Homo sapiens: one gene and its partners. The protein of the gene in region 3 purifies or fractionates together with the protein of the main gene of each other region. This does not show direct contact. Each region holds a gene or a part of one and is shown on either strand. Other genes may lie near its edges. The genes, in order: NME7, TCHP, GLUL and ASPSCR1.

The links.
Region 1: the proteins of GLUL (region 3) and NME7 purify together in Homo sapiens (affinity purification with mass spectrometry; 4 studies listed by BioGRID and IntAct, with this or other methods). This does not show direct contact.
Region 2: the proteins of GLUL (region 3) and TCHP purify together in Homo sapiens (affinity purification with mass spectrometry; 4 studies listed by BioGRID and IntAct, with this or other methods). This does not show direct contact.
Region 4: the proteins of GLUL (region 3) and ASPSCR1 purify together in Homo sapiens (affinity purification with mass spectrometry; 4 studies listed by BioGRID and IntAct, with this or other methods). This does not show direct contact.

Annotation. Positions count from the first base shown.
Region 1 is NC_000001.11:169,357,307-169,364,870, forward strand, and holds part of NME7 (nucleoside diphosphate kinase homolog 7), read right to left. Parts: intron 1-7,564. UniProt on the Homo sapiens protein: Possesses an intrinsic kinase activity. Displays 3'-5' exonuclease activity with a preference for single-stranded DNA. Does not seem to have nucleoside diphosphate kinase activity.
Region 2 is NC_000012.12:109,895,626-109,903,273, reverse strand, and holds the start of TCHP (trichoplein keratin filament-binding protein), read right to left. Parts: upstream 3,001-7,648; 5' UTR 2,848-3,000; intron 2,698-2,847; exon of another isoform or gene 2,215-2,697; intron 248-2,214; coding exon 60-247; intron 1-59. UniProt on the Homo sapiens protein: Tumor suppressor which has the ability to inhibit cell growth and be pro-apoptotic during cell stress. Inhibits cell growth in bladder and prostate cancer cells by a down-regulation of HSPB1 by inhibiting its phosphorylation.
Region 3 is NC_000001.11:182,388,227-182,396,488, forward strand, and holds the start of GLUL (glutamine synthetase), read right to left. Parts: upstream 3,565-8,262; 5' UTR 3,453-3,564; intron 3,116-3,452; exon of another isoform or gene 2,949-3,115; intron 2,627-2,948; exon of another isoform or gene 2,271-2,626; intron 525-2,270; 5' UTR 512-524; coding exon 346-511; intron 1-345. UniProt on the Homo sapiens protein: Glutamine synthetase that catalyzes the ATP-dependent conversion of glutamate and ammonia to glutamine.
Region 4 is NC_000017.11:82,008,495-82,016,058, reverse strand, and holds part of ASPSCR1 (tether containing UBX domain for GLUT4), read right to left. Parts: intron 7,023-7,564; coding exon 6,868-7,022; intron 6,574-6,867; coding exon 6,492-6,573; intron 5,258-6,491; coding exon 5,191-5,257; intron 4,517-5,190; coding exon 4,454-4,516; intron 3,904-4,453; coding exon of another isoform or gene 3,829-3,903; coding exon 3,776-3,828; intron 985-3,775; coding exon of another isoform or gene 703-984; intron 1-702. UniProt on the Homo sapiens protein: Tethering protein that sequesters GLUT4-containing vesicles in the cytoplasm in the absence of insulin. Modulates the amount of GLUT4 that is available at the cell surface. Enhances VCP methylation catalyzed by VCPKMT.

The DNA of each region.
Region 1 (7,564 bases), about 13 Mb from region 3:
TCATATATATAGCATGTTGCAAGAACCCAAAAGTGGGCAGAAAGATGAGTTCAAGAGCCTCTGCTCTATATCTGAATATAAATGCTTATTATGTCAAGTTTGATTCTAGAAGTGTTCTAATAATGCATGCCACAACCTAGGTGTTAAGGGTATTGGGAGACAAGATAAAATCATCAGGCCAATACTAATTTTTATGTGGAAATGCTAGAAAAAGTGATCATAATATTATAGAAGCCATTCATTCTTTGCATAAAAACTTGAACATTTTTAATTATGAAAAATATTCAGATATCTAAGATAGACAGATATTCACCTTTTAGAGATCTCAGTGCATGCAGTAAAATCCAATAAGGTACCTAAAAGGCAATATGGTTTAACATAAATGATAAAACTGTACTTGCCACTAGATGAAGGGATTTTCAGTTTTTCCAGAGCCGAATTTCTGAGTCTAAGTGGCAAGAAACAGACTGGGTCTGAACGGTCTCATTGTACTTTCACAGTCAAATTACTGAATAATAAAATCTCACATGACCAGCAATAAAAGTAAATGTTCCCAGCTAATCCATTTAAATTGAGTAGATATTCAGGGATCTCACACCTAATACCTGCTAAATACATATCACACATGTTTAGCTGCCCCTATCCACAAAAGTATATGACCATTATTGAAACTGGTCTCAAGACCAATCTCTGCCATTTCCCTCCCTTTTACCAGCTTTTTCTTATTTCCATTAGGAAAATGAATCTATAAGAGAAATTTAGGAAGAGGGAATTTAATATATAAAAGTAAATTTTTCAATAGCCACAAAATTGCATAACACCATTAACCTCAAATATTTATTTTTGAAGGTTGATATTTTAATCTCTTCCATTTTCCTCAACTATCTTCTCATTAGGCAGCAATCTGGTTAATATGAAAATAACACATTTCATATGTATATTACAGTTTATAAATTACTTTCATATTAACTTATTTGATCTTCACAAAAAATGCTTTAAGGTAATCTAAACAGAAAGTATTATTTTGATTTTATGGATGAGAAAATAACTATCCAAAAAGATTACATAACACACAGCTCATAAGTGCTTAAGCCAGGACTGGAATAAAGACTGAAATTTTAGATTTCTAGCTCTACATCAGTTTGTTTGTACTTCAACAAGCTACATCTTGAAAATAAGTACACAAGAGAGGACTGGAAAATCTGTCTACAAATAATAGTTAAAAAAAGGCCAACTTAATATTCTTCACTACAGTCAGACAATAAACCTTGAATTTTAACAATTTATAATAGATGTAAAACAATAATTACAAAGAAATATTGTAGGTAAGTATTAACAGTGCCTTTCATCTATAGAACATACAGTAATTTATATTTCTCTCAATATTCTGAGCAAAGCAGGTGACAGTTTTATTAAAAGTTCAAATCTATTGTTAGACATATGTATGTAATGTATAGAAATACCAGTTTAGAGTTTAGAAGAAACAGGCACCATGGTATACTGCTAGCAGAGTATTCACTGGCAAAACTATTTTGGGAGTAGTCTGGCAATGTATATTGAAAGCCTAAAAATGCACATGACCTCTCGCACCTAGTTATTTCCTTTTTAATTTATTGTAAGGAAATAATTATGGATGTCTATAAAAATGTGTTCGCAAAAATATGTTAGTATTGTGTTAACAGAACAAATTAATAAATGGATTGGTTAAATCAGAGTAAATGAAAGAATAAAACGTAGAGCTGTCCCTCAGTATTTGCAGGGGATTGGTTCCAGGACTCCTACAGATACCAGAATCCTTAGACGCTCAAGTCCCTTACATACAATGATATAGCATTTGCATATAACCTATGCATATCCTCCAGTATATTTTAATTCATCTCTAAATTACTTACAACACGTAATACAATGCAAATGCTATGTAAATACTTGTTATAGTGCTTTGTTTTTATTTGTATTTTTTATCATTGTATTGTTATTTTTTTTTTTCAAATATTTTCAATCCTCAATTGGTTGAATCTGGATGCAGAACCCATGGCTACCCAGGGCTGGCTGTAGTTCTTAAAACTGATCTGGAAAAATGCAAAAGATATATTAAGTGGGATAAAACAGATTTCTAAACAATGAATATAATAGAATCATATTTTAAAGGATATGTATCTCTGTGTGTGTGTGTATATATGTATGAGTATATATGTGACCAGGATATTACACAAAAATATTAATAGCGATTGTATACAGGCAGTGTTATTATAGATAAATGTAATTTTATTACTTTTACTTTTATATTTTCTCATTTCTAAAAATGACTAAGTAATTTTCCTATATTTCTACAACAGAATAAGTTAAATATCTTTATAAACATATATAAAACATATATAGCATATATATGTATCATGTAAATATTGAAACTATGGAAAACAAAGGATAAAAGTTGAATTTACATCTATCAGAGAGCTCTAGAGCCATTATGTGTGCATATGAAGATACATTTTAAAGAGTATAGAAATATGAAGAAGGCACAGCACATAAGATGAGTCAGGAGAGAGAACAACAGCAACTTATTAAGGCAAAGTGTCCAGTATCAGAAAATAAATGTGAATTAAGCAGTACATTTTAATAGCTACAGTTTCTCACATCTAATTAACAGAAAGTTTTAAATATTGACAACTTTGGAAGTGAAGAAGTTTAGGCAGTTTTTGAAAAAAATGTGAATACAAAGTTCATTGGGAATGCTGGAGATACTTCTGGAAAGTAAGATACTTCAATCATATGCTATAGCAGCATCAAGAAAGGTACTAGGTGAAGATCACAGCAGCAAACATAACTCCCATGTTGAAACTATAATGCATACCCATCTGGAATATGTAGCTCTGCTCGCCACACCTTAGAGTAGATATTATAGAAACAAAAAATAAGTCCAGAAATGGGAAAATAAATTATGAAATGGCAACTATAAGGGATGAAATTAGGAGTCTCTGAAGTTCAAAGACAAAAGAAGCTCAGAAAAATATTTCCCAAAGCTTATAAGATCATAAATTTTACAGATAAGATAAAAATAAGCACCAAGAGACCAAATTAATATGGCAAAAGTTTAAGGCAAATCCAAGGAAAATAAAATATTTTGATGGAATAGGTAAAATATATAAGATGTATAATACTACTGCATTTAGAATAAAATCCAAAATCCCTCCCAAGTTCCATAAGTCTCAGTATTCCTGGCTCCTTCCTGCCTCTCAGATCTCTTCTCCTCCAGCTGTCCTCTCATTCCCTAGGCCCCAGCCACACTATCTCCCTCCTGTTCCTCTAATGCACCTCTGTGCTCACTATTGACTCTGCCTGGAATGCTCTTCTCCTAGGTTTCACCTGGCAAGCTGCTTTCTATCATTGACATCTCAGCTTAAAAGTCACATCCTCATGAGGACCGTCCCTGATTGTCCTACTCAAGGCTACTTGCTCTTGGAACCAACCAATATTGCATTACTTAGTTTAATTTTCCTCATAGTACTTATCATCATATGAGGTCATCATTCGTTTATTTATTCATGTAAACTGTTTTTCTCTCAAACTAAGGAAAAAAACAATTAAAGAGTTTTATCATCAAAGAGACTTTCCCTCACCACCCCAGGCTAGTTCAGATCACTCTATTTTATTACTAACTTCCACCTCACCTTGTCATTTTTCTTTTGTAATCCAACTTATACTTGTAATTTATTTTCCAATATCTGTTTTTCTCCATAAATTCCATGAGTTAGGGGCCACTGTGTGCTATCTTATTAATCAATGTATACCCACCAGTTACCAGTATATGGAAAGTACTCAATAAATACTTTCTCGAATAGAAGAATAACTGGTGAATGAGAAAGAATTGGGAATAAAAAGGCAGAAAAAGGAAAGCAAAAATAAATAAAAAGCTACATGAAAAAAATTATGGCATTATATTAACCACTTACTATTCCGTTCTCCAAATACCACTGTTTCCTACTAAACAAGAATATAACAGGCTCTAAACTGCATTTGTAATACAATATATAGGAAAATAAACTTTTAAGAGTTTCATATCTGCAATTTATGCCCTGTGCTTTCTGATTCACTTTTTGTAAATAAAATCCTGTGGATCTTTGGAACTGCAATTCTTCCAAATCAGCAATTCAAGTAACAAAAGGAATTCTGGATGACTAAAAAGCAGATGCTGTCTGGGTGCCAAGCTTCATGCCTATAATCCCAGCAGTTTGGAAGGCCGAGGCAGGCGGATGACCTGAGATCAGGAGTTTGAGACTAGCCTGGCCAAAATGGCGAAACCCCGTCTCTACTAAAAATACAAAAGTTAGCCAGGCGTGGTGGCATGCGCCAGTAGTCCCAGCTACTCGGGAGGCTGGGGCACAAGAATTGCTTGAACCCAGGAGGCAGAGGTTGCAGTGAGTGGAAATCGCGCCACTGCACTCCACAGCCGGGTCGACAGAACAAAACTCTGTCTAAAAAAAAAAAAAGGCAGGTGCTAAAAACAAAACCAGAAAAGCTATTAGGAGAAACGTCATAAAGTTGGAAACTGAAAAGCATTTCATTTCATGGAATAAAATTTTGTTCTTCAGTAATTATGAAACTGTCTTTGAAAACTCTGTTAAAAACAACTTTGACTCATGCCTGTAATCCCAGCACTTGGGGAAGCCGAGGCAAGTGGATCACTTGAGGTCAGGAGCTCGAGACCAGCCTGGCCAACATGGTGAAACCCTGTCTCCACTAAAAACACAAAAATTAGCCAGGCATGGTGGCACATGCCTGTAATCCAAGTTACTCACAAGGTGGAGGCAGGAGAATCGCTTGAACCCAGGAGGCAGAGGTTGCAGTGACCCGAGATCACACCACTGCACTCCAGCCAGGGTGATAGAGTGAGACTGTGTCTCAAAAATAAATAAATACATAAACAAACAAACAACTTTGAGACATTTTACTTCAAAGGTTTAGATTAGTTCTTATGGAACATAGCTAATAATCTTTAAAGTCCTTTATTACACTAACAGTTCATCTGGAGTAATGATATTCTAATAAATGCTATATTTTAGAAGATACATAATATTAATATCTTTGTCAAATATATCTTAGAATTACCTTCTCTGTCCTCTTTATAATATGTAAAAGAAATTGATGAGTCCAGCATACGCTTCATCTTAAATGAGGTGTATGAGAAACATGCTAAACTATGGTTCCCTATCTCTGCTTCACAATATAAAGGTGATTCCAGAATTTGGAAGCCTCAACTATAACAAACTAGATGAAGACAGAAGCTGATTAGATAAACTGCAGTGGTCAGGAAGCCTCACCAACAGAGCAAACAACCTCCATCTTCAGCTGCTTATTGAGAGGCCATAATCCTTTGCTGCAATACATACAACAGTGGCTAGACTGAACACAGAGAAGGGACATCTGTTTCTTAGGCCTGTTCTTTCTCATAAATGATTGATGGCAAATATGGAGGAGAGTGATCTGGATGCACAAAGAAACTTGAAAATTTTACTCTAGCCAATTTTAGGCTTTCGTTAATTCAAAGCTGTATCTGCCATACAACAAGAACATTTTCACTAGATCAAAAGAGGAATAAGAATATCTGCAGGCCTTGAGATTTCAACTATTTTGCCTTTTAAACTATATATTAGCTGAACGTGGTGGCTAACATAAACATAATCCCAACACTTTGAGAGGCCAAGGTGGGAGGATCACTTGAGCCCAGGGGTCCAAGACCAGGCTGGGCAGCATAGTGAGACCCTGTCTCTGAAAAAAAAAAAAAATTAGCTGGGCATCATGGCACACACCTATTATCCTAGCTGCTCGGAAGGCTGAGGCTGGAGGATCACTTGAACTTGGGAGGTTGAGGCTGCAGTGAGCCATGATCTCACCACTACATTCCTGCTGGGTGACAGGGCAATATCCTGTCTCAAAAAAAATAAATAAATAAAAATAAAATAATAAGATAAAACAAATAAAGTATATATTATTCAAAGTACCCTGTGTCTTGAACTTTGTGGATCAGGACTCACAGTAAGAAATATATTTTACATCAGAATCCAGTACACATCCAATACATATACAATTAAACAAAAGTTCATGAACGTTACCCTTACAACATGTAGTGAATATGTTAAGTTGCTATTTTATGTCATCTTTTTAATGCTGGCTACATACCACAAATTTGAGTAATGAGTCATCAGGTACAGTTTGAGAAACACTGCTGTACGTATACGTGTGGTCTGGCCTCTGCCTACCTCCCTAACCACATTTCATGGTATTTTGCACCATATTTTCCCTACTGCAGCCACCCCTGCACCATCCCACCACCCAGTTTCTATTATTTTATTACATTGAACCATAAGTTCCTAAAATATACCAATCTCTTTTCTGCCTCAGGGTATTTGATCTTGTTGTTAGCGTGGCCTGGACTCCTCCAGATCACTGCACTTTGTATTATATTATGCAGGTCTCAATATAAAAGTTCTTTCCACAGAGAGGCCTTCATTGACCACCTAATTTGAAAGAGCCCCAGCCTGCAATCCCGGCAGGAGGAGTGGGAACAGGAGTTCATTCATTGCCCTTAGCATTCCTGGGAAGTTTGATAACATAATGTAAGACAGGCAAAAACCAAAAACAGTATTGAGCAAATGTCACTTTCTACCTCCCTATGCCATTGCACAGGTCATAGAATTCTAACTATTGAAATTCTATTCCATTTTCTTCATGACAACTTTTCTGACTCTGACTGAGAAGCAGGGACTCAATTGTACAATTTGCCCCCTATTACTTTGTATTCTCTCAGACCACTTAGCGCATTCTTTCTTATTTTGTATTCATTCCGCAAACATTTGAGTGCCTAATATGATCTAGGCAATACTGTGAACAACATAAGCATGAATTCCTCCAACAGTTCACATTTTAGTAAGAGTGACAGATCTATAAACAAATAATTTCAACCGAATGAGGCAAGTACAATAGGAGAGATGTATACTACATAAAATGGTGACAAAAAGAATGAACAATCAACCTCTTTTTCTTTTTTTCTTGATTTCACAGTGTGGAGGGGAAAGCTCTGAATATCTGCATAGATTTTAAATTTGTATTTATTTATACTTTTTTAGAGACAAGGTCTCGCTATGTTGCTCAGGCTGGCCTTGAACTCTTGGCCTCAAGCAATCCTCTGACCTCAGCCTCTTCAATAGCTGGGACTACACACATATGCCACCGCACCTGACTCGACTCAACCCTCTTTGAGTAGGGAAGGAAGGCATCACAGAAAAGACACCTACACTGGGTCTGGAAGTGAATCCACCTTTGCAAAAATTATAACAGTGAGAGAAATCTAACCTAACTGACTCCATATTGCTTCTAACCTCACAAAGCTAACTGCCCTTGCTCATACCTGGGCATAGGCAAGCTAACTATGGGAGAAATTTATAGTTTAACTTTGAAGCAAGGATGGTAATAGTCCCTTCCAAAACTGACCCCCTCTAGGGACTAAAACAGCCTTGTAAGACTAATAGAAGGCCGCAAGGTTAGGACTATGGGAGGGACCTAAAAT
Region 2 (7,648 bases), on a different chromosome or scaffold from region 3:
ATCCCCTGACCAGCAAGTGGTCCCCACTTCCATCCAATCGGCAGTTACCGCACAATTACCTCCGCTGGTAGGAGGTTTTAGAGCTCCATTCTGCCTGTTTGGAGCTGCAGATGTCAGACATCCTGAAGTAACGGCTGTTCTGCTCCCACTGCTGCCGAAGCCGGGCCTCCTGCTCTCGCTGTCGTGCTAGCTGCTGATTCAGGCGCTGCTGGCTGCACCAGTAGGACGGCAGCGTCGGGAGCGCCATCTGAGAACAGGAATGGGAGGAAAGTGAGCCACTGCAAATCCCAGGAACCCTCACCAGCTTGGCCTCATCCCTTTAACGAGTGGTCACCACCCCTTGGCTGCACAGTGAAATCAACTGGTGGAACTTTAAAACAAACAAACAAACAAAACCGTGTCTGAGCCCCACTCCAAACTAATTCAATCAAAAAACTTAGTAGGGCCCAGGCACCAGCATTTTTTAAAATGATCTGCCACTAGTGCTGCAAATCATCCTTTTAAATTTGCCGTGGCTCACGCCTGTAATCCCAGCACTTTGGGAGGCCAAGGTGGGCAGATCACGAGGTCAGGAGTTCGAGACCAGCTGCGCCAACATAGTGAAACCCCTGTCTCCACTAAAAATACAAAAAATTAGCCAGGCGTGCTGGTGGGCGTCTGTAATCCCAGCTCCTTGGGAGGCTGAGGCAGGAGAGTCACTTGAACCCAGGAGGTGGAGGTTGCAGTGAACCAAGATTGTCCCACTGCACTCCAGCCTAGGCGACAGTGCAAGACTCCATCTCAAAACACAACAAAACAAAACAAATAAACCTTAGCCAGACACAGTGGCTCATGCCTGTAATCCCAACACTTTGGGTGGCTGAGGCAGGAGGATCACTTGAGGCCGGGAGTTGGAGACCAGCCACATCATGAGACTCATCTCTATAAAAAATCAAAAATTAGCCAGGAGTGGTGGTGCGCCTGTAGTCCCAGCTACTCAGGAGGCTGAGGCAGGAGGATTGCTTGAGCCCAGGAGGTCACGGCTGTAGCGAGCCATGATAGCGCCACTGCACTCAGCCTGGGTGACAGTGAGACTCTGTCTCAAAAAAACAAAAACATAAAAAATTCTGGACTGCGTGCACCCAGCTGTGGGCCAGCCATCACCAGGAACACAACAGACAGACACAGGGATTGTCCTAAGATTGCTAGACTAGGCACATCGGGGGCATTTATGCTGTGCTTAAACAGAGACAATAATGTAAGGAACACATGTATGTGCCAAGCACTCAATACATATGACTTTTTTTCATTCTTACAATCACCTCGCTATTTGGCAGGTAAGGAAACTTACGTTGAAGAGGTAAAGTTGTTGTACCCGAGCGAGTTAGAGAAACGCCACAGTTTGAGACGAAATTAAGAGTCCTTTATTTAGCCAGTGCCCAAGAGACGGCTAATAAATTCTCTTGGCCCGAGGAAGGGGCTTGATTTTCCTTTATACTTTGGTTTAGGAAGGGGAGGGGAGCTCAGATGCAACAATTCTACATAAGTAAAAACATGCAAAAATTAAAAGGACAAAGAGTCACAGAGAAACAATTAAAAGACAAATGGTTACAGAGAAACAACAGTTCCAGGTGCAGGGGCTCTAAATCTTTCATAAAATGTTAGATATGGGTGCTCTGCCCGACACCAACTCAAGGTTTTATGGTGTTATCTTTTGAGCAAAATCCTGGGAACTTCGTACATTGCTTGTTTCAGTACCTTATCAGTTAATTGGACTCTTTGATATGTTGAGATTCTGCTTACACAAGTTAACTCCTTGAGGAAAGGGGTGGGTAAGGAGTCCTTGATGTCTTGTAAATGAGGGAACCAGATGGAGTTCATCCGGCTTTCTCAACTAAGGGAGAGCTAATTCATGTGGAAACAAGGCTAGGTGATTAAGGGGAAAAAAAGAGTCTAAAAGCAAGGTTAGTAAAAACAAGGTAAGGCATTAAAAAACAAGGTTAGTAAAAACAACGTTAAGCATTACAAAGTGATTTGCTCAGGATCACAGAGCCAGGAAGTAAAGGAGATAAACAAGCTGGGTTCCTAATTCATGTCCGTCTGAGACCAGAGCCCAGGCTCTCTCTGCTGCAAGGGGCTGCCTGTTGGGACCAACCTGCCCTGGCTCTGGCAGTCCCCGGGGAGGGGACTGATAATAACACTCGGAAGTATGTTGGGCTACCATGGAGGACAGACCTTTCATCTTGCAGATGAAGAAGCTGAGACCTAGAGAGAGGAATTGCCTGAGCAATGTAGGGATACAGCTGGAGCCTTGAAAGCAGAGAGCAGTCTCACTCCAGGCACCAATTCCCCTGACCCAAAAGCTGTCCTCAAGTGTAGGGTCGATGCAGTGCCTGGGTAGGAACGCCGGCTGAATGAGCGAAAAGGCCTGGTGCACGCCAAGAATCTCATTCTGGAGGTCCTCCAGTTTTGGGGGCAAACACTCTGCGTCTATGGTCCAAATGTAGCCGGCAGGCTGCTAACGTGTGACCTCGGTCTCGAGACCGTGGCAAGCTTCACATACTTTTTTCCCGCTCCCGTAAAGCCGCCAGTGGATCAGTCTTTGCACCAAGAGTTAAAAGTTTAAGATTCCCGTCCCGGATTGGCCACCCACAAGGTGGGCTGCTCCCCGAACACGTCGCATCCCTCTCTCGACCTGAACATGCACGTGCAACAAATGGGGTCACAGCGCGTGGGGAGCGCAGTGAGGACCCCGGAGGCGCCCTGAGCTCGCGCCCGCTGACTGCCGCCCCGGTTCCCGCCCGCGCGGGCCGCCTGCGGGCCCCCGCCCTAACGCCGGATCCGGCCTAGTCCAACCCTCCGACTCACATTTCTCTGAGGCTCGGAGTTTCCGAAGAGTCCCCCGGCCCGACTTCCCGCAGGCACGAAGCGGGCCGGCCAGTCCCCCGGTGTAATTCCCAGACGCGCTACAGCAACGCCGGCTGTTTCCTCCCTGTTTGCACCGGCAACGAGCCCGACGACGGAGCGTCGCAAGGGCCAAGCCTCCTTCAGCGCGTAGGGAGCCTGTGTTTTTCTCTGGTGCCCCGTCGTGGCCAGCGGGAGATAAATAGCAAACGTCGCTGCTCCTTGAAATAGGGAAGCATGGAGGCAAAGAATCCGTCCATGCACTACACGTATTTCAGGATGGTGGTTACCATCACGTGAAGGTGAAGGTGGAAACCAGGGGGAAGAGAATGTAAGTCAGTGGTCCTCAAACCTGGCTGCGCGTGAGAATCACCAGATACCAGCCTGGGCAACACAGAGGGACTCCTGTCTCTAAAAAATTTTTTAAACTTAACCGGGCATGGTGGGACTTGTGGTCCCAGCTACTCGGGAGACTGAGGCGGGAGGATCAGTTGAGCCCAGGAGATCGAGGCTGCCGTGAGCCATGACTGTGCCACTGCACTCCAGCCTGGGTGACAGAGCCAGACACTGTCTCAAAAAAAAGAAGAAAAAATCCAGATACCTTTAAAAAATCCAGATGCCCAAACCAAACCCCAAATCCCATCTGAGAGTATCAGTGTTTTCCAAAATTCCCCAGGTGTGTTCAATGTACAACTTGGGCAGAGGCCTGCTGGCATAAGTAGATGGAAGTTATTGGTAACTTTTTTATTTTTTTGAGACAGAGTCTTGCTCTGTCGCCAGGCTGGAGTGCAGTGGCGTGATCTCGATTCACTGCAACCTCCGCCTTACGGGTTCAAGCGATTACCCTGCCTCAGCCTACCGAGTAGCTGAGACTACAGGCGCACGCCACCACGCCCAGCTAATTTTTTGTATTTTAGTAGAGATGGGGTTTCACCATATTGGTCAGGATGGTCTCGATCTCCTGACCTCGTGATGCGCCTGCCTCAGGCTCCCAAAGTGCTAGGATTACAGGAGTGAGCCACTGCACCCGGCCGATAACTTTCTATTATAGTCTTATATTGGTGGTGAGTTCAAAAGTGTTCATTCTATTAGTATGTTTTATAACTCGTGTGCTACAAGTATTACATGCCAACTATTCCATTAAAAAGAAAATGAAGAAAAATACTTGTTTGTTCTCTTTTCTTTCATTTTCCCATTCTTTCATTTCTTCTTCCCTTCATTTCTCCATTCTTTATTCATCTCTGTTTTTCCTGGATGCAGCATCATGGCCTCAGCTGGGTTCAGTGGCTTACGCCTGTAATCCCAGCACTTTGGGAGGCCCAGGAGGGTGGATTACCTGAGGTCAGGAGTTGAAGACCAGCCTGGCCAACATGATGAAACCCCGTCTCTGCTAAAAATACAAAAATTAGCCGGGCATGATGGCAGATGCTTATACTCCCAGCTACTCGGGAGGCTGAGGCAGGAGAATCGCTTGAACCTGGGAGGCAGAGGTTGCAGTGAGCCAAGATTGCGCTGCTGCACTCCAGCCTGGGTGACAAAGTGAGACTCCACCTCCAAATTAAATAAATAAATGAATACATAAATAAATAAATAAAATTAGCAGGCTGTGGTGGTGCACACCTATAGTCCTAGCAACTTGGGAGGCTGAGGTGGGAGGATCACTTGAGCTCAGGACAAGGAGGCTGCAGTGAGCCGTGATCACACCATTGCACTCCAGCCTGAGTGACAGAGTGAGACCCTGTCTCAAAACATGGTCTCTACAGTCAGAACGCCCAGGTTTCAAGCTATACCATGCTGGTGTAGTCTTGGGCAGGTCACTTCATCTGTCTGTGCCTCAGCTTCCTAGTCCATGGAATGAGAGTAAAAATAGAGCAACTTTCAGGCCGGGCCTGGTGGCTCATGCCTGTAATCCCAGCACTTTGGGAGGCCAAGGCTGGCGGATCTCTTGAGGTCAGGAGCTTCAGACCAGCCTGGCCACATGGTGAAACCCCCGTCTCTACTAAAAATATAAAAATTAGCTGGGCGTGGTGGCAGGCACCTGTAGTCCCAGCTACTCGGGAGGCCGAGGCAGGAGAATCGCCTCAACCGAGGAGACGGGGGTTGCAGTGAGCCAAGATCATGCCACTGCACTCTAGCCTGGGCAACAGAGCAAGACTCTGTCTCAAAAAACAAAGCAAAACAAAAAATAGTGCAGCTTTCTAGGGTTGCCCGTGTGAGAATAAATGGAGCATGCCCAGGAGTAGAGCATCCAGTGCATCCCAGGTGAGCCCAAACTTGAGCCTTCCTTCACATCCCCCTTTAGTTGGCACCTGTTTAATCAGGGTCTGTCCCACTGCGTGCATAAGAGTCCTCAAGTTTCCCTCCCATTAATCCCTACCCCCTTGGGCAAATTCATGGCCACTCTTTCATGTTGTGTCCCCAGTGCAGAGGGGTGGCAGCAGCCCACTGCAGTCACTTAGCAGAGATGCCCACCCAACAAAGGAGACCAACACATAAATGTCTGTCGACAGGAACTTCATAAACACATGAATTGGACCAGGCGTGGTGGCTCACGCCTGTAATCCTAGTATTTTGGGAGGCTGAGGCAGGTGGATCATTTGAGGTCAGGAGTTCGATACCAGCCTGGCCAACGTGGCGAAACCTTGTCTCTACTAAAAATACAAAAATTAGCCAGGTGTGGTGGCATGCACTTGTAATCCCAGCTCGGGAGGCTGAGGCATGAGAATCACTTGAACCCAGGTGGCAGAGGTTGCAGTGAGCCGAGATCTGACCGCTGAACTCCAGCCTGGGCAACAGAGGGAGTCCCTGTCTCAAAAAAAAAAAAGAAAGAAAGAAAGAAAAGAAAAGAAAAAGAAATATGTGAGTTGGGGCAAGGTAAGGGAGACCTGATCCTGATTTTGTGCCTCTTGGGCAAGGCCTTTCCACTCTCTGGGCCTCAGTTTCCTCATCTGTATAATGACCAGATAAGCTCCACTAGCAGAACTTTAGGGCTTAGGGCTCGACCAGCATGCCGGAGGGCAACCATTCCTAAGTGGCCTGATCCTGGAAGCCTGAAGTCCCCAGATTACAGCCTCCATTCTCTTTTGCTGGCCAGACATCCTCACCGGCCCCCACAGTTCAACTCTGAACCTCTTGATTACACAGCTGCTGGCTGTCGCTATTAAGCAACTTTACAAGTGCCTTTTCCTTTGCTCCTCTTGGGCATTCTATGAGATATCTTATTGCCCCCATGTTAGAATTGCCTAAACTAAGCCTCGAAAAGGTGGCATGGCTTGCCTGAGGAGCCGCAGCTGATAGGTGGTTGAGCCATGATTTGAAACCAGTTCTGCCTGATCCCAGTGCCTAAGCCCTCTTGCTGCAACACAAGAGCAGGGATCATCGTGTTCCTTGCTGCATTCCCCATGCCATGCCTTGTATGTGGTAAGCACTCTATCTATCTATCTATATATCTATATCTATCTATATATATATTTGAGACAGAGTCTCACTCTATCACCCAGGCTGATGGAGTGCAGTGGTGCGAACTTGGCTCACTGCAGCCTCTGCCTCCCAGGTTCAAGCAATTCTCTTGCCTCAGCCTCTTAAGTAGCTGGGATTACAGGTGCCCGCCACCACGTCCGGCTAATTTTTGTATTTTTTTTCAGTAGAGTTGGGGTTTTGCCATGTTGCCCAGGCTGGTCTTGAACTCCTGACCTCAGGCATCAACCTCCCAAAGCGCTGGGATTACAGGCATGAACCACCATGCCCGGCCTCAATCAATATTTGTGTTGAGAATGAAAAAGTGAATGGATCCCCTATTTTGAGTACTTTCTTCTCCTCCAAAGGAAAAAGGAATCTATGGTGTTAAGAGAAAGCAAAAAGAAGAAAAGGAACGAGCATTTCTTGAACACCTGCTATGTGCCAGGTGCTTTGAGATATATTATCTCATTTAAGCCTCCCTCCAACCTGGGAGGAGTTTGTTCCTGCCCCCATTTTGCAGATGAGGGCGCTGAGGCTCAGAGAGGTGAATCAACTCTCTTGAGGTCACACAGCAAAGACTATAAAAGCCAGGATTTACAACAAACCTCTGAGACTGTGAATCCCTCTTCAGTGTGTTTTTCTGGGAGCTTGTGGCTTGCAAGTGTAGCTCTTAAAAGAGGCCTGCGGCCGGGCACAGTGGCTCACGCCTGTAATGCCAGCACTCTGGGAGGCCAAGGCGGATGGATCACTTGAGGTCAGGAGTTCGAGACCAGCCTGGGCAACATGGTGAAACCCCATCTCCACCAAAAATACAAAAATTAGCCAGGTGTGGTAGTGCGTGCCTGTAGTCCCAGCTACTCAGGAGACTGAAGCAAGAGAATCACTTGAACCTGGGAGGTAGAGGTTGCAGTGAGCCGAAATCATGCCACTGCACTCCAACCTGGGCAACAGAGTGAGACTCCATCTCAAAAAAAAGAGGCCTGCAAATGTGAACATACAAAGAATTTGGCAATATGAAATATTCAATGACAGGTCAATGACTACGGCGTGCAGGGGGCTGAGAGGGAAAGCCCTGGTAGGAACCCGCAGGTTGGAGCTGCTCCAGGACTTGTGATTTTAGGTATCCTAGCATGGGAGAAGAAAACAAGAACAGGGAGAGGGGGTGACACTATGGGAGCCGCTCTCCATTAGATGAAACATGACAGTACTGGAAGCCGCACAATGCCATCATTTAATTAGCAGGTACCGTTGTGAAGGTATGACATTTCAACACCAACCACTCCAGCTTCTTGCTTCACACCCCACC
Region 3 (8,262 bases):
GGTTAGAGCAGTGGTTTTCTGAGGGTGCCTTAGAGCCAGCTAAGTGGGGATGTCCAGGTCGGCAACCTCTAAGCCCCATGCCAACTCTCCATAAACCAGACTTAGTTTTTCTTCAATACACTGGCCTACGTGCACAATTCCATTGAAATAAAGGGTTCCATCGTCGCTCTGCTTTGAGGCAGTGTAGGAGCTTAATGTTGACTGAATAAAGTCTGAAAAGCCCTGCCTTAGAAAACCTTTACAAACAGAAGAAAGAGGCCTAATCCAGAGGCTGAGTCAAAGGCTGCTGCCCACCCCTCTGCAGATCCCACCCAGCATGTGCTCCACTCCACATTGCTGTCTCACCTTCCACACACTTGGGCTCACTGTCCAGGGTCCGGGTCTTGCAGCGCAGTCCTTCTCCAGTACCATCGATCCAGATATACATGGCCTGGACTTTCTCACCCTGAGGCAGGGACATGTACACCTGCTTGATGCCTTTATTTAAGTGGGAACTTGCTGAGGTGGTCATGGTGGAAGGTGTTCTGGAGAAGAAAAAAAGAATAACATTGTTAACGCCCACTCCAAACTGATCCCCTGCAAAAATGGCTCAAGAAGGACGACTGAATCAAAAGTCAGAGTGTAAGTGCCAACTCCTTCCCTTGTGGAAGTCAACACACAAAAAGTTATGTTTACTCACTCTTTCAGGGGGATTAGTTTTATAGTAGGCAAAAATCTCCTTTATAATAGGCTGTAAAACTGATCACCACCTTTTGAAACAATTAACACAGATGCCTGCTAAAGAAAAGATCAGGCCCTTGGTAGTAACTCAATGCCTCTGCATCCCTGAGCTCACAGGCTTAAGTTCCACAGCTACTGCAGAACCCAGGCTTCCAAGCTAGAACTTATACTTGTGAGGACTAAGGTCTATTCCTTCAGTGTAGCTGAGGTTAACACTAAACTATCCAAATACTAAACTATCAGAGGAAACAAATCAAAACCAATACACAAATTTACAAAACATAGAACTTCTTCCAATATAAGTAAAATCCAGCCACAGAACAGGCTTGGCTTCCACAGTTTGTTTTTCTCTTTGTCTTTCATCCTAGCTGTGGTCTTAACTCAAACCCACCGCCCCTCCCCACCAAAAGAAAACTCATTACACATTTAGATTTGAGGATGAAACAAGGTTACAATATATTTTTTTAGAAGGCTAGCAGTTTCCTACACAAAAGCTGATTCAAGCCAGATTCTAAGGGGAATGCTGCCATAATTTCCATAGGTCTCATGCAAAGTCTCACTTAAGATAGTGGGCAAGAATCACAACATTATGGAATTCTACAAGACTTGTCAAGTAATTAGGAAATTTCCACTTCTAAATCAAAAAGATCTGGAAATTTAAAAGCCATGAGGCATACTAATAACTGCCAGCCACTACCACAAAACCTCCGAAAGAAGAGAAACTCTCAAGCCACAACAGCCGAAGAGGAAACATTCTCTCTCTCCCTCCTCCCTCCGTGGACCAGGGTGGCTAGAAAGGGAACACATTGTTCTCCTCCAACGACTAGGGCAACGTTCTGAAGTACAGTGGCAAAGTTTCTACGGGCAACCGTCCATGTTTGCCCAGCTGAAAACATAACTGCTTCTCCCTCAGCCTCACCACCCTTCCCCTTGGGGAAGACCAACACCCCAATATTGCCTCTAGAAGACTCAGCCGGCCAAATCCTACTTCCCACCTCCATCCCAGAACCCTTTAGCTCCCGCTAAAAGCTACAACCCACCGAAGCGGGCAGATCACCTGAGGTACAAAGTTCGAGACCAGCCTGGCCAACACGATGAAACTCCCGTCTCTACTAAAAATACAAAAATTAGCCGGGCGTGGTTGTGCACGCCTGTAATCCCAGCTACTCGGGAGGCTGACACAGGAGAATCGCCTGAACCCCAGAGGCAGAGGTTGCAGTGAGCCGGGAGATTGCACCACTGCACTCCAACCTGGGTAACAGATAGAGACTCTGTCGGAAAACAAAAAAAAAAAACCTACAACCCAATTTCTCGGCTGTCCTCTCCAACATGTTACACCACCAATATCATGCACACTTTGTCCTAAGCCTCAGTTTCGGATCTCTTGCTCTTTTCCGTGAGCCGAGTTGCATGCCAGCAGCCTAGTGCCACTCTATCAACTGCTGCTGCTGCGGTGCCAAGTTTACGTGGGGGAAATGGATTCTGAAGTTTTCAGCAGTTTCTGCAGCTCCCACCAACTCCGGGGTCGTCCTCCCTGCCCCCTCACTCACCCCAGCCACAGAAAGTCAAGCGTATCGTTAGGGTTGCCCTCTTTAACCCTTCTCTTTTTGGAGTGGCGTTCGCGCCTCTCCTCTTTCTCAGACTCTAGCTGGTCCAAGCACCGGAGCTTTCTGGGAGAGGGCGATGGAGAAGGGGACAGACAGCGGCCGGCCCGGGGGGTGTCCGAACAGGCAGGTTGGTGGGTTAAGGTCTTAATCTTGACTCGAGATCTCTCCCCGGAGTTCACAGAGTAGGCGACGAAGCCGAAGCAGCTGGAGCGCGACCCGGAGGAGTCTGACTTCTCGTTGTCTTCATAATTTTCATTCGTTGCTTTCTTCGTGGACTTGCGGCTGGGGGAGGATCCCCGCTTCCCGCCCCCGAGGGAGTTATAATTATCCACTTTGAGAGCAGCCCCTTCCCACTGAAATGTCCCTAAAGTGGGCGCCCTGCCCCTCGGGCCCCCGTCCGAATCTCAGGGCCTCACGGAGGTGGCCATACCCTGCCGCCGAGGGGTTGGGGGGTCCGGGGGAGGGTGGGGGCGCAGGCCGTAGGGACTGCGCGCTGCTGCTGCCTCCGCCCGGACCGGCTTCTCCACTGACTGCGCCGAGGCCCGGGCTCTCCATTGTTCGGTCACATTGGAAGGCCCCCGGGACCCCGAGGCGGGAGCCGGCCGCCCAAACAACGCTCACCGTTACACGCCGCAATCGAGGCGTCTCAACCATCGCCAGAACCAGGACGATTGCTCCGAAGGCCCCACCACGAGGAAGGCAGCCAGGCGCCCGCGCCAACCAAGCGCCTTGTTTGCGCTCCACAGGGGACCGCACCGCCACTCCATCCACAGCGCAAACAAACCACTGCGAGCCCCAGGGCGCAGGCCGGCCCAACGGCCTCCAGGGGCGGCGCTTCGGCCGCAAGTAGTGAAAAGAAGATCAAAACAACTCACCCCGCCCTTCCCAGAGCCTGGCCAAGGGCGCGCCCCACCAGCGCCAGCCCCGACGGGTCCAAGCCACCAGCGGCGGAAGCACGCGGGAGGAGCACTCATGCCGGATCTCAGGCATGGGCCGGAGAGGCCGCAGCGTAGGGCTGGGACTGGAGGGGCAGGCAGCCGAAAAAAGAGGCTGGGCGGCGCGCCTCGCGGGGTAGCAGGGGCGGCGCGCCTCGCTTGCGTGACACCGGGCCGTCCGGGGGCTTACCTGGTCGCCGAGCAGGCGGGCGGGTAAAGCTAGGCCGCGAGAGCGAGGTTAGGAGAGGAGAGGAGGCCGCAGTACTGCTCACACGCTCCGCTCTTCTCCCACTCTCGACTCTGCAGAGCCGCCAGCAGCCCCGCACCCTTTATCCGCGGCCCGGGGCCGCCCCCGGTGCCCTGATTGGCTCCCAGCGGCCAGGAGCCCGGGCCGATCAGCTGATGCGGTCCCGGGCCCCGCGGCCATTGGGCGAGGAGCCCGGCGGGCGCCGCTGGGGTGGGGGCAAGCGAACTGGGAAAGAAAGAAAGAAAGAGAAAGGGGCGTGGGGGAGGGGCAGGGCGGCGTGGGGGAAGGGAGCGGAGCCGGGAGGGCTGAGGGCAGAGGGGCGAGTTGCCGCCAGGCCGGGAAGCCTCGGCTCGCCGCCCACCCGCCAGCTCGCCAGGTGCCGCCCCACGGCCCCCAACCCGGGGTCCCGAGGCTCCCAGCAAAGCCCGCCCTGGACCTCTGCCCTGCCGCCTTCACGGGGAATAGTTTTACGAGGAGAGCTCCCTGGGGAAATGCGGAACCAGGGAAACCGAATTTAGCCTTTTGTTGCGAGGGAGCCTCCGAGCCCCGCTTCCTGCGGGCAGGGGTTAGCTTGAGAGGGAGCGCGGGGCGCGGGACCCGAGGGAACTTTGGGCGGGCCTGGGCTAGGGCGGGTGCCGCGCGGGCCTGGGGACAGGCCGGGGTTCCCAAGGCCTGGAAGAGCCGCCCGCTCCGGCTCTCTTGGGTCTGGGGAAATAAACAGAACTCTGCCATTTCACATTTGAAATCAACGTGCTGTTTCTCTAATTTTACAGAGAGGATTCTGGAGGGCGGTAGAAACTAAGTCTGGAGACCTGTCTCATACTGCTGGCCAGACCCTAGGCAGGTCTTTCAGGGCCCAAGTTTCCTCATCTGCAAAATAAAGTGGTCATCGAAAATGACCTGTGGAGCCGCCCACTAGATTTGAAATTCTGTGTGCAAACTGCCCCCGGAGCAGCTGAAAGGAAATCGAGGTGTTCACTTGCCCCCTTTGAAGTCCAGGGATTGTCAAGAAATTCCTTTAACGAATTCTCCCTGATTTTGCTTTATCAAGTGCGGCTTCTTGTTAATCTGGAAAATGGGAATACATACCTCTCCTCTCAGCTTGCCGTGATGGTTGGGAAAATGTGTATGTGAACACAATATTGAAATGTACCTAGAGACACAACATAGGTAGGTAGGTAGGTAGGTAGGTAGATACTGCTATCCGTACTATTACTCGATCATTCTATTTTTAGTGCCTGAAATCTACCTGATGGTGTCCAGATTTTATTGCTTCTTTCAGTTTAAAGAGCAAGAATTTATGCTTCCAGTGCCTTTGGAAGAGGAAGGGAAGAAGTTTGTTCTGGTTATGTTTTGTACCGCAAATGTGGAAAAGAAATGTTGCCTGCAACCACACACACATAACTTGGCTTCTTTGGTCAACATCCCTTTCCTTTAAGAGTGTATAACACTGTAGTGCTTTTACATGACAGATGCAGCATTCATCTCAAACAGGGTTTTTTGGGATGTTTCAGACTGGTGACATTTTGGATTGGGTAAGGTGCCTTACAAATTCCTTGTTAAATTTCAGTGCTGCCCCTTGAAGCATTACATTGTGGTGGCTAAAGGCACGGCTGCAAGTCAGGTAAACCTAGGTTCAAATCTGGGCTTTCCCTTCATACCAGCTTTGTGTTGGCCAAATCACTTAGCCACATGAAGCCTGTTTCTTTGTCTATAATAAAAGAGGGATAATCATTTTTACCTCATAAAAGGATTAATTGTGATAGCACATGCAGAAGAGATTGAGTAGTCCTTGGTGCATCGTAAATGTTTAGAAAACAGCAATTATAATTATCATAGGCCAAGTTCTATAATCTGAGGTGATTGGATTCTTTCTTTCCCCATAGCGACTTTTGAATACAACTTTTCTGACTCAGTGTAATGCTTTACCATTCATTATATCAAACTGGACTTAACCTTGGTAACACAGTGAGCTGTCTTCATCTCTTTCTGTAAAGGTTTGAGTTTAAATGGTCGAGGAAGGGGAGCAAAGGAGGAGAAAAGTGATATTTTTATTTTAAAAGATGTTATTAATCATTTCCAGATACCAAACTACCGAACCATAAGCCAGAGCCTCTGCTGCACACACCACCAGCCCCTGAGGTGGGGATGACAAACATAACAGAGAACGGAATGGTAAGGCGTGAGTGCGGTTCTGCAGGCTTATGGTATTTCTGCCATTTGAGTGCCTGCTTCCCTTCCTAGATGTCTTGACCTCATTGAGCAGTTTATTCATTGTCATATCCCCCAGTAGTGTCCACGGTGAGTGTTCAATAAATGATATTTGTTAACCACACAGAAGTGACAGCAGCACCATCAAGAGAACATGTGCTTTGAGCTGCTTTTCCAAGAATGGAAATGGATTTGCTTTGATCCATTCATGTGACCAGGGGCACGCTTTGTAAGGGTTAGGAACATAATACATGACCACTGACTCTTTCAGGAGTGAACAAGAGGCCTTGTCCTCCTTGGCCAGCCCCACATTTACTTAAAATGATGAAATTAGGGCGCAGATGAGTCCAAGAACTGACCAGGGAGGCTTGAGCATAGGCGAGAAGTAAAAGCAGAAGAAAACCCTTAACTGGTTCACCCGCAGAAACCCAGACTGTACTTTTAGAGAAGTTAAAAGTAAAACAGCCTGTTTCATCCAGTTTGACTTTGCTGTGTCTGCTGCCCTTTCTTCTCCTTCCCCTTCTTCCCTAAATTGCCACCCGCCCCCATTCTTCACCCCCACCATAAAAAGAGCATTAGAATGCTTGAACCCATGAACTTTTCTGTTTCTTGGTACACACCATATCAGTGCTGACAAGGGGTTCCATTGCATGTGCTTTGAAGTCATATTTTTCTCTCTTAGAGTAGAATTGCCATGTCCAAGGGGTGGGTGGAGTGGGAGAGCAATTACAGGGAAAGATTTTGTTCCAAATCTGCAGAAATAGCCTGAGATTAAAAGTATTTCTTCAATGTTGTTCTGCTGCCTGAAATAAAAGCTTTGTATTAGGATTTTGCTCTACTCCCAAATCTTATCTCTATTAGGAAACAACTTTTCTCTTTTTTTTTTTTTTTTTTTTTTTTTTTTTTGAGACGGAGTCTTACTCTGTTGCTCAGGCTGGATGCAGTGGCGCAATCTCGGCTCACTGCAACCTCCACTCACTGTAACCTCTGCCTCCCGGGTTCAAGCAATTCTCCTGCCTCAGCCTCCCAAGGAGCTGGGATTACAGGCGTGTGCCACCACACCCAGCTAATTTTTTGGTATTTTTAGTAGAGACGAGGTTTCACCATATTGGCCAGACTTGTCTTGAACTCCTGACCTTGTGATCCGCCTGCCTCGGCCTCCCAAAGTGCTGCGATTACAGGCGTGAGCCACTGTGCCCGGCCCTTTCTCTGTCTTTTAAAGGATCCATTCTCACTCTGCAAGTATGAAGTCCTTTACCTGGGGATCTGGAGTGCCTTCCCAGGGCCTGTGTGGTTGCCTTATACACATTAGACACAAAATTTAGGGTAGGGCTCACATTGACCAAACCTTTTCTGTTTAGGAAATGGAGTTTTCCCTGTGTATGAATGATTTCAATAGGCATTCAGTGAGACCTTTAAATCATGTTAAAGAGATACAATTGAGACTCAGGGTTGGGGAACACCCTGGAAACCCAACCCAGAATTGTAAAATATTCTTTTAAAAATTATTATTATGTAATAAACCAACATCAGTTCTTTCCAAAAGAATGGACCATAGTAGAATCTTAAACCAAATCAAAATAATAATAATAAAAATGAAGAAGAAAAGAAATAGCTCTGGAAGTTGATAGCATTATTCTTAAACCATAATTTAGGGAAAAGCTGTAGTTGGCCAAGCTTTCAAATTTCACTTTATACAATTAGAGAAGGAAAGACTACATTTACATTATACTTCAGTTCAATAACTAGCACTAAGAATGGAGGAATTGTTCTTTACAGTTTTTGATTGTTTGATATTCTTCAGTTCAAGACAGGAAATTGGAAATTCACGTCTCAGCCATATCTGTAGCCTGATTTGAGTTTTGTAGGATGCGTGCTGAAATCAGTCAAATACAAGGAACACTTCATTTCCCCAACTGCGTGTTATGATGGAAGGTTTGGGTCTGTTTGAGCTCTACCCTGAATCATGTCTCTAGCAGGAAACTACGTGGAAAGTTGGGAAGAATCAAGTTCATCTTAGTTAACAACCTGGGGAAAATGTCCTATTGAGAAAATTAAAGCCATACAATTCTAGAATTAGATCTTCACATCATTCTATCTTAAAGATGAGGAACTGAGGCTTAGATAACTCATAGTAACTTGATGAAGTCATGTTTGGTTAGTATTTTAGAGCTTAATGAGCTTTCAAGGTGCTGTTCTTTTTCTGTTCCCTTTCCTTTAGTCGCTTTGGTCTGTGGGTGATCTGTTCCGGGGCCACCATCTCTAAAATACTGAAATTCCTACAGTCCTCACTGAGGGAGGTGCAGAGGACAGGGAGCAACCATTTACCTCTCAATCCTGGGTATGCTTACCCAGTGACTTCTGTATAGCAGACACTCAATATATATTTTCTTTGTGAATAACTAGATTAGCAGAAAAAAACAACACCATAGGAAAGATTCTCTTTGAAGGACTCTTTGGAGATCATTTTTCACATCTGATAATCTGCCTCCAGTTTCATTGTTTTGTGAATCGGGTTTTTTTAGATACATTTTGTCCTTTA
Region 4 (7,564 bases), on a different chromosome or scaffold from region 3:
CCCGGCTCCAGGCTGCTCAGGGCCACAGGCTGGGGGTGGGAGTGGGGCTGGGGGATGTTAAAAGATTAATAAGAGGAAGCTTCAAAGGCCAGGCCCAGGAACGCCGAAACCTCAGCCTCCAGCCGGGGGCCCAGGGACACAAACAAGGGCCGTGAATGCTTTGAAAACCCAATTGTGCCGCCTGGGATCAAAGCCTTGTGAGCAGAGAAGGGCCTGTGGGGTGGGCAGGGGCTGCCCGAGTGGCCCTGGAGAGGCGCCGGAAGCTGGGGAGCCAGGAAGGGGGCACGGGGAGGACAGCGCCAGGAGCTGCCATGGTCTCAGCCTCTCCCAGATGGAGAGCATGCTCCGCCACCACCGGGCCTCCAAGATTCACACCCAGGCTGCGGCTGCTCACAGAAGCCCAGGGGACACTGCCCAGAGGCTGCTGTGGGCACAGGAGCCCTGGCCAGCCCCATCTGCATCCCACCTGCTGCCGGGCGAGAGGGCTCCCTCAGAGGCCACCGATGCAGAGAGGCACCTGGTTCTCATCATAGCCCCCACAGGCCAGGACCCCCAACCAGCACTGCCCCACGGGACGCACAGAAAGGGGCGGGCAGGACTCGGGAACACCAGGAGAGGGAAGTAGGCTTGGCAGCCAGGCCTGGGGCACCTGGGCTCCCTGTCTGCGCCTCTGTGCAGGGAGCACTGAGCCAGGCAGCCTACCCGGCCTGTCCCCACGTGCTTGTGCCCAGCCTTGACTCGGGAGGGATCGCCACTGCTCGGACGAGGGGATGGTGGAGAGGAGGGTCGGCAGACTGGGTGGCATGGAGGCTGACCAGTGCTTGGAGAGGCTCGGCCTCTGGATGGACCCCAAAAAAGAAGCCTCCCAGAGTCCACGTCGCCTCCATCTCCTACCACTGGCAAGCGTGTTCTCTGCTCTGGTCCCAGGCACCGTTTCAGCGAGGGACCCAGGGTGAATGGAGCCACCCGGTCACCAAGCTGGGGCTGGAAAGGGAAAGTGGGTCACACCGTCCCCCCAGCCAGAGCAGGGCCCGGGAAGGGCCTTTGAGGGAGGCACAGGCTGAGGGGCCTCTCCCCACCAGCACTGTCCCAGGATGTCTCAGGCTGCCCCTGCCTGGCTCCCTCGGCTGACAGGGAGAAGTGGGGGTGCCCGCCCTGCCCTGACACAGCCTGAGGGCCTGGAGCCGGCCCCTCCCTAGCTGCCGCCCAGGACACTGGGGCCCCAAATCCAGCCGCCTCTCTGCTGCCAACCCCTTGCCCCACTCAGTGTTGCCAGGAAGAGCTTCCGAAAGGAGGCCCACGTCAACCCCCACGGGGCAGCAACTCTGTAGGGGCTGCATGCACACGTGGCCCAGCGCCTGGCCGCCCCCTCCAACGAGAACAGCACCACCCTCCGGGGAACGAAGCCAAGAGAGGAGCCCTTGCAGCTCAAGACGCCCGGGAGGGAGGCGGCACCACAGCGCCTGGGAGGGAGGCGGCACCACCGTGCCCGGGAGGAAGGCGGCACCACAGTGCCTCGGCAGGGAGATGGCACCACAGAGCCCGGGAGGGAGGCAGCATCATGGTGTCTGGGAGGGAGGTGGCACCACGGTGCCCGGGAGAGAGAAGGCACCACGGTGCCTGGGCAGGGAGAGACGGGGCATCCACCCACAGAGCGGGAGTGGGGGCTGCAGGAGCCATCCTGCCTTCTGCAAGACCATTTGTCAACGAGGAACATTTCAGAGGGTCCAGGTGGGGTAGGGCCTGGTGGGTGGAAGGAAGGGGGCCTGTTGGTCCCAGAGAGGCCCCGGCAGTGGGCGACACGGCAGTGCAGGACGGGGCTGTCCTGGGTGGAAAGGAAGGACGACAGAACTGGCTAGGGGCGGGCGCCCAGCAGGCACTCAGGCCAGAAGTGCCAGTCACGCCCTGCCAGGTGAGTGGCTTGGGGAGTGGGGAACCAGGCAGCAAGGGTGGCCTGTGTCCTGGCAGACGGTCCCCAGAGGCAGCCTGAGAGCTCCAACAAACGGAGGGTGTTAGGAGCCAGGCTTGCCCTGCCAAAGCCAATGGAAGGAAGCCCAAACAGCAGAGCCTTTGAAGAGATAAGTGAGGTGACCGTGACATCAAAGGTGGGCCTAGCCCAGGGTGACCTTCCTCATGACCTGAGGACGCGGACCGCACACAGAAGTGACTGTGTGAGGACACCAGGGCAGGGCCAGCCCTGATGCCCAGGGCCAGGACGCAGGTTTCAGGCAGGGGCGGGGGGCTTTGTTCCCCACAGTGGTGCCCCCACACTGCTCACAATTCCCTGTCCTCACTCCTGGCCGCCTCCTCCCAGCCCTCCCAGAAAACCTGCACTCTCCTGGGCCAGGGCCACAGAGGGCTGCCGGGCTACCGGAGCCCCCACACCCACGCACGCTGTCCCTCTCGGAAGCCGGGGGCCGGCCCCTGGACATCCCCCAGGCAGCAGGCAGCCGGAGTGGGGCTCTGCCAGAGACGTGAAAGCTGGTGCTTCCGCGCCCGCCGCCTGCTTGCCTGCCAGGGAGGCAGGCTTCCTTCCCTCAGCCCCGCCAGCTCTCTGACGGCAGGCAGGCAGGCAGGCACGTCACCGGGGACACCACCCCGAGAGGCCCCGAGGCTAGAGCCGAGCTGATGGAGGGCAGGAGACGGTGGCTGGTAGGGAAGCCAAGCGTCCCCAGAAACAGGGCAGCAGCACCCCAGTGCTCTCAGGGGCCTCCCAGCGGGAGGGTGGGCTGCAGGCCTGGGCACTGGTCCTCCTCCATCCCAAGGCATCTTCCAAATTCAATGTTTATCAACTGGCTGGCCAGCAAGGGAGGGGATGGAGACGGAGGAAGGAGGCCCGGAGTCCGCCCGGCAGCTCGGGGGCTGAGAGGGGACTGTCTCACCCCTCCCCTGCCTCCGCTGCAGGGAATCCCGCTCAGTCCTGCTCCTGATCACCCCTGGCAGCTGCCAGCCTTCTTGCCCCAGCTCAGTAAGCGGCTGCAGCCCCAGGCAGTGAGCAAGCTTCTCACCTCCAACCCAGGCCTCTGTAGAGGCCTGTGGCCACTTAAAAAAAAACCCGCCTCTGTGGCTAATTAAAATATCTGAAGAGGCTTTGAAGAGGAAACCATTAGGCCAGAGGGCTTCGGAAGGCCCCAGGCAGCTCTCCCACAGGCCAAGGACAGGACATTCATTGCTTCTGGCTCTGGAGGGCGGCCCAGCAGGGCTGGGAACCCGGCACCCTCACCCTGGCCCCACCCTCAGGAGCCCTCAGGGAGGTGGCAGGGACCCACAGAAGCAGCGGACAGCTATGGGCACCAGGGCGTTCCTAGCAGGGACCGGGGGGCCAGCGGGAGAGGCCGGGCAGGGGGAAGGGGCAGCTGAAGCCCAAGGCGGCCGCCTCCAGCTGAGGGCCTGGTCCCTCTGGGGCTCCCTGAGCCCTGCTCCGAGGCCTGCCGGGCCCTTCCTCACCCAGACCCCTGGGCAGGGACTGCTGCCGCCTTGGCCCCAGCACAGCAGCCCAGGGGGGCCGAGACCTCCAAGCGGCCTCAGTTCAGGCAGGCCGCCTAGCAGGTCCTTTCCCACCCGGGGCCAGGCAGGAAGCAGAGGAGGCCGGAAAGCCGTGTCAGAAGCAACTTCAGAGGCGCACGGCCCCCTCGGAACCCACCGGCTCTCAAAGGCTTTATTATCCTGCCCCAGCGCCTGCCAGGCCCCTCCTTCCTGCCCGAGGCCTCACGCTCTCGTCCTGCCCTCCCTGGAGGGCCCCGCCCCGCAGCACCCCAGGGAGGCCCTCAGGTACCTGAAAGAGGGTCTGCGTGTGGTCGTCCAGGACTGTTTTTGGAGGGGTGATGACTGAGGAGAGAAGGCACCTACGTGTTAGGAAGCACCGTGGACCTCGCCCATCCATGCGCCCGAAGGAAGACAGGCCTGCAGATGGGGGTGACGCCTCAAGTGGGGCAGAAGAGCCCCTCACGAGCACGCCCTGTGCCCACACTCCTGCTGCAGAAACTCCAGCTGAGGGCTCGGAAGGGCCGGTGGGGGGCAGGCCCACCTGCAGGGGACACCACCCGTGCAGCCCGGCTCCCCTTGCAGTGGGCAGCCTAACCCTTTGCCACCTAGACACCCTCCAAGGGAGGCCAGCCACTCCCTGTCCACCCACCCTTCCCACAGCCCTCGGGCAGGAGTGGCCTGAGCCCCAGGGGTGGGGACCAGGCTGGGGTGCAGCAGGGCTCCAGAGGGGAGCAGGGCGCTGAGAGAGAAGGCAGGAAGCCTGGCTCCCACCGCCTGGCTCGGGGAGAAGGGCCCTCCTAGGTCTCCACACAGACACCATGGGCTGCAGGAGGCACCTGGGCGGGAGGCCACAGATGCTGCTCCTGTGGAGAAGCTGCCACGAGCCCCAGCTGGGACGGGCGGTGTGCCCACAGCACCAAGGCCCCGAGCACTGGAGGCAGGAGTGGGCTCAGGAGAAAAAACGTACACAGGTAAAATGACAGCTCGGGGTTCCCCAGGTGGCTCCTCACGAAGTCTCGCAAGTCCCCCACTGCAGAGGAGAAAAAGAACATACAGACAGCTCTTCCACCACGCCAGCCCCGGGCTGCCCCAGCACCTGGGCCACTGCTCCCACCCTCCTGGGCCTTTCCCCGAGGGGTGGGAATTCAGCCCTGTTCCTCCCACAGCACTCCAGGTGCTCGGCGTGGCTGGGCCACCGTGCGGGCCACACTTGGGACCCCCGCCCTGCTGGAGAGCACTCCCACTGCCACCCGCTGCCCCCCAGCCCCACCCCCGCCCCAGCCTAAGCGCTTCCCTTTCCCTGGGGGAGGCCCCTGTGACCTTGGGCTGCTGCCGCCCGGCCGTCTGGGTACAGGTCACAAGCCCCTGAATGTCACAGCACCACTGCCCTCCTCCCGGGGTAGGGTGCCTTCCTCTGGGTGCCCCTCTGCCCCACCCATGCCCAGTAGGTGGGCGACGTGAGCACTCAGGACCACGGGCTCCCTGAGCTGGGGCCGGGCACCTGGAGCAAGCGCCCAGCCTGCCTGACACTCTGCGAACTGGGATGCCTCTGCACCCCCAAGGGGACATCAGCACCCGCACCCACCCAGTGCCCTGGAGCCCGCAGGCCAGGTGGCTGCAGTCCTGTGGCCTGGAAGGAAGGAGCCGGGAGAGGCCCCATGGGCCCCTGCCCCCCATCCCCGGACACCCCACAGCGCTGCCCACCTGTCTCGCTGGGGCGGAAGAAGCCCTGTAGGACGTAGCGGTCGGGGAACAGGACCCTCAGAGCCACCTAGGCCAGACAAGTGGAAGGGTTGGAGGGACGGCCGGAGCTGCACCAGGGACCAGGGCGTGGCCTCCCCACTCGGCCCATGCTGGGCCATGGACACCAGGGCTGAGGCAGGCAGAAGCAGCCACCCCCAATCAGGGCCTGGGCTTTGACTCCCCCGTGGCAGGCTGGGCATGGAGACAGCCAAGTGCCGTGTGTGTGCACAGCGGCCTGCGTTCTAAAACCACACTGACCTGGGTTCAAATGTGCTGGTTTTTTTTTTTTTTTTTTTTTTTTGAGATGGAGTCTCACTCTGTCGCCCAGGCTGGAGTGCAGTGGCATGATCTCGGCTCACTGTAAGCTCCACCTCCCGGGTTCACGCCTTTCTCCTGCCTCAGCCTCCCGAGCAGCTGGGACTACAGGCGTGCGCCACCTCTCCTGACTAATTTTTTGTATTTTTAGTAGAGATGGGGTTTCACCGTGTCAGCCAGGATGGTCTCGATCTCCTGACCTCATGATCCGCCCACCTTGGCCTCCCAAAGTGCTGGGATTACAGGCGTGAGCCACCACGCCCGGCTCAAATGTGCTGTTTAAAGTTTCATTCAGCCAGGTGTGGTGGCTCAAGCCTGTAATCCCAGAACTTTGGGAGGCCGAGGCGGGCAGATCACCTGAGGTCAGGAGTTCGAGACCAGCCGGGCCAACATGGTAAAACTCCATCTCTAGTAAAAAAAAAAAAAACAACAAAAATTAGCCGAGCTAGTGGTAGCGGGTACCTGAAATCCCAGCTACTTGGGAGGCTGAGGCAGGAGAACCACTTGAACCCGGGAGGCGGAGCTTGCAGTGAGCTGAGATGGCACCACTGACTCCAGCCTGGGCGACAGAGAGAGACTCCGTCTCAAAAAAAAAAAAAGGTTTCATTCTAAATCATGAGCAGGGGAGGATCAACTGGCCACTAAGGGCATGCGCGCCACCACGGGGGGGCCCTGCTCAGAGCTGTGCCTCAGTCGCCCCCACGTCCCATCCACAGACCTCACAGGGGGCCCCCTCAGAGCTGTACCTCAGTCGCCCCCACGTCCCATCCACAGACCTCACAGGGGGCCCGCTCAGAGCTGTGCCTCAGTCGCCACCACGTCCTGTCCACAGACCTCACAGGGGGCCCGCTCAGAGCTGTGCCTCAGTCGCCCCATCCCGTCCACAGACCTCACGGGGGGCCCCCTCAGAGCTGTGCCTCAGTCGCCCCCACATCCTGTCTGCAGACCTTTGGGTAGCGCTCCAGCTTCTCCTTTATCTGCGCCTCCCTGAAGGCCTTGGTCACCAAGGGGGCTTCTTCCAGGCGCTTCCTGTGGTGAGGAGGGGAAGGAACAGGGCTTCTGGTCAGAATGGGGGCCCTGGCAACAGGCCCCGGGCTCCTCACCTGCACCCTCCAGGGTGGGAGTGGGCTGCTCTCCCCACACAAGGCAGGAAGGTCTGGACGCCCCTCCCTGGGCCCCAACCCTCTGAGGTCCTGTTAAGGGCAGCCTGTCAGGGACCTGGGCCGGGAGCCAGTGCTGGCACTGGGGACAGCGGGCAGCACAAGCACCCGATGGGGCAAACCCTGGCGCGAAGATGCCGGGAGGCACTGAGGGGGCACCCACCGCTCACTCTTGAGCTGGGCCAAGCGTCTTCTCACGTCGTCCACCGTCAGCTCAAAGAACTCATCAGGCAGCTCCGCTGGCCAGGCCTGCAGCCGCTCCTCCAGGTCGGGGTGGCACACCACCGGCTCCCGGTCCACGGGCTCCCGGTCCACGGGCTGGAGGCAGAGGGCGCGGCTGACGGCGGGTGTCACGGGCTGGGCCCTCCGCACCCCGGGCTGTCAGTGCCCCAGCCGAGGTGGTCACACAGACTTGGGAGCTGGGCCCACTCCCTCCCTGGCCCCGGCCAGCGCAGGGCCAAGGCCAGGTCCTGGGGGCAGGGCTGGGCACAGCAGCTGGGGGACCCCACCCCACTCAGAGCCTGTCCAGGGCTGGAGACCCCCCTCTCCCAGTCAGTGCACCAGACCTGATGCTGAGCCCCTGCTCCCCAGCAGGGCACATGGCCCCTGGAGTCTGGCTCAGGCCACGTCAGGGTCTCCATGGGGGGGAGGGGTGGCGACAGCCGCCAAATTAGAGCGTCGGCAAAAACCCCAGTCCAGCTGCCCCCGCTGCCCTCTTGGCCACAGCTCCATGGCCAGGCTGAATCCATGCACGCCTGCCCCCAGGGAACAAGCCGGCCCCTCCCTCTGCCCACCCTGGGATGCGGGAGGGACAGCGTCACCCCTAATTGGCATCAACAGCAATGAAATTGACAAAGCCG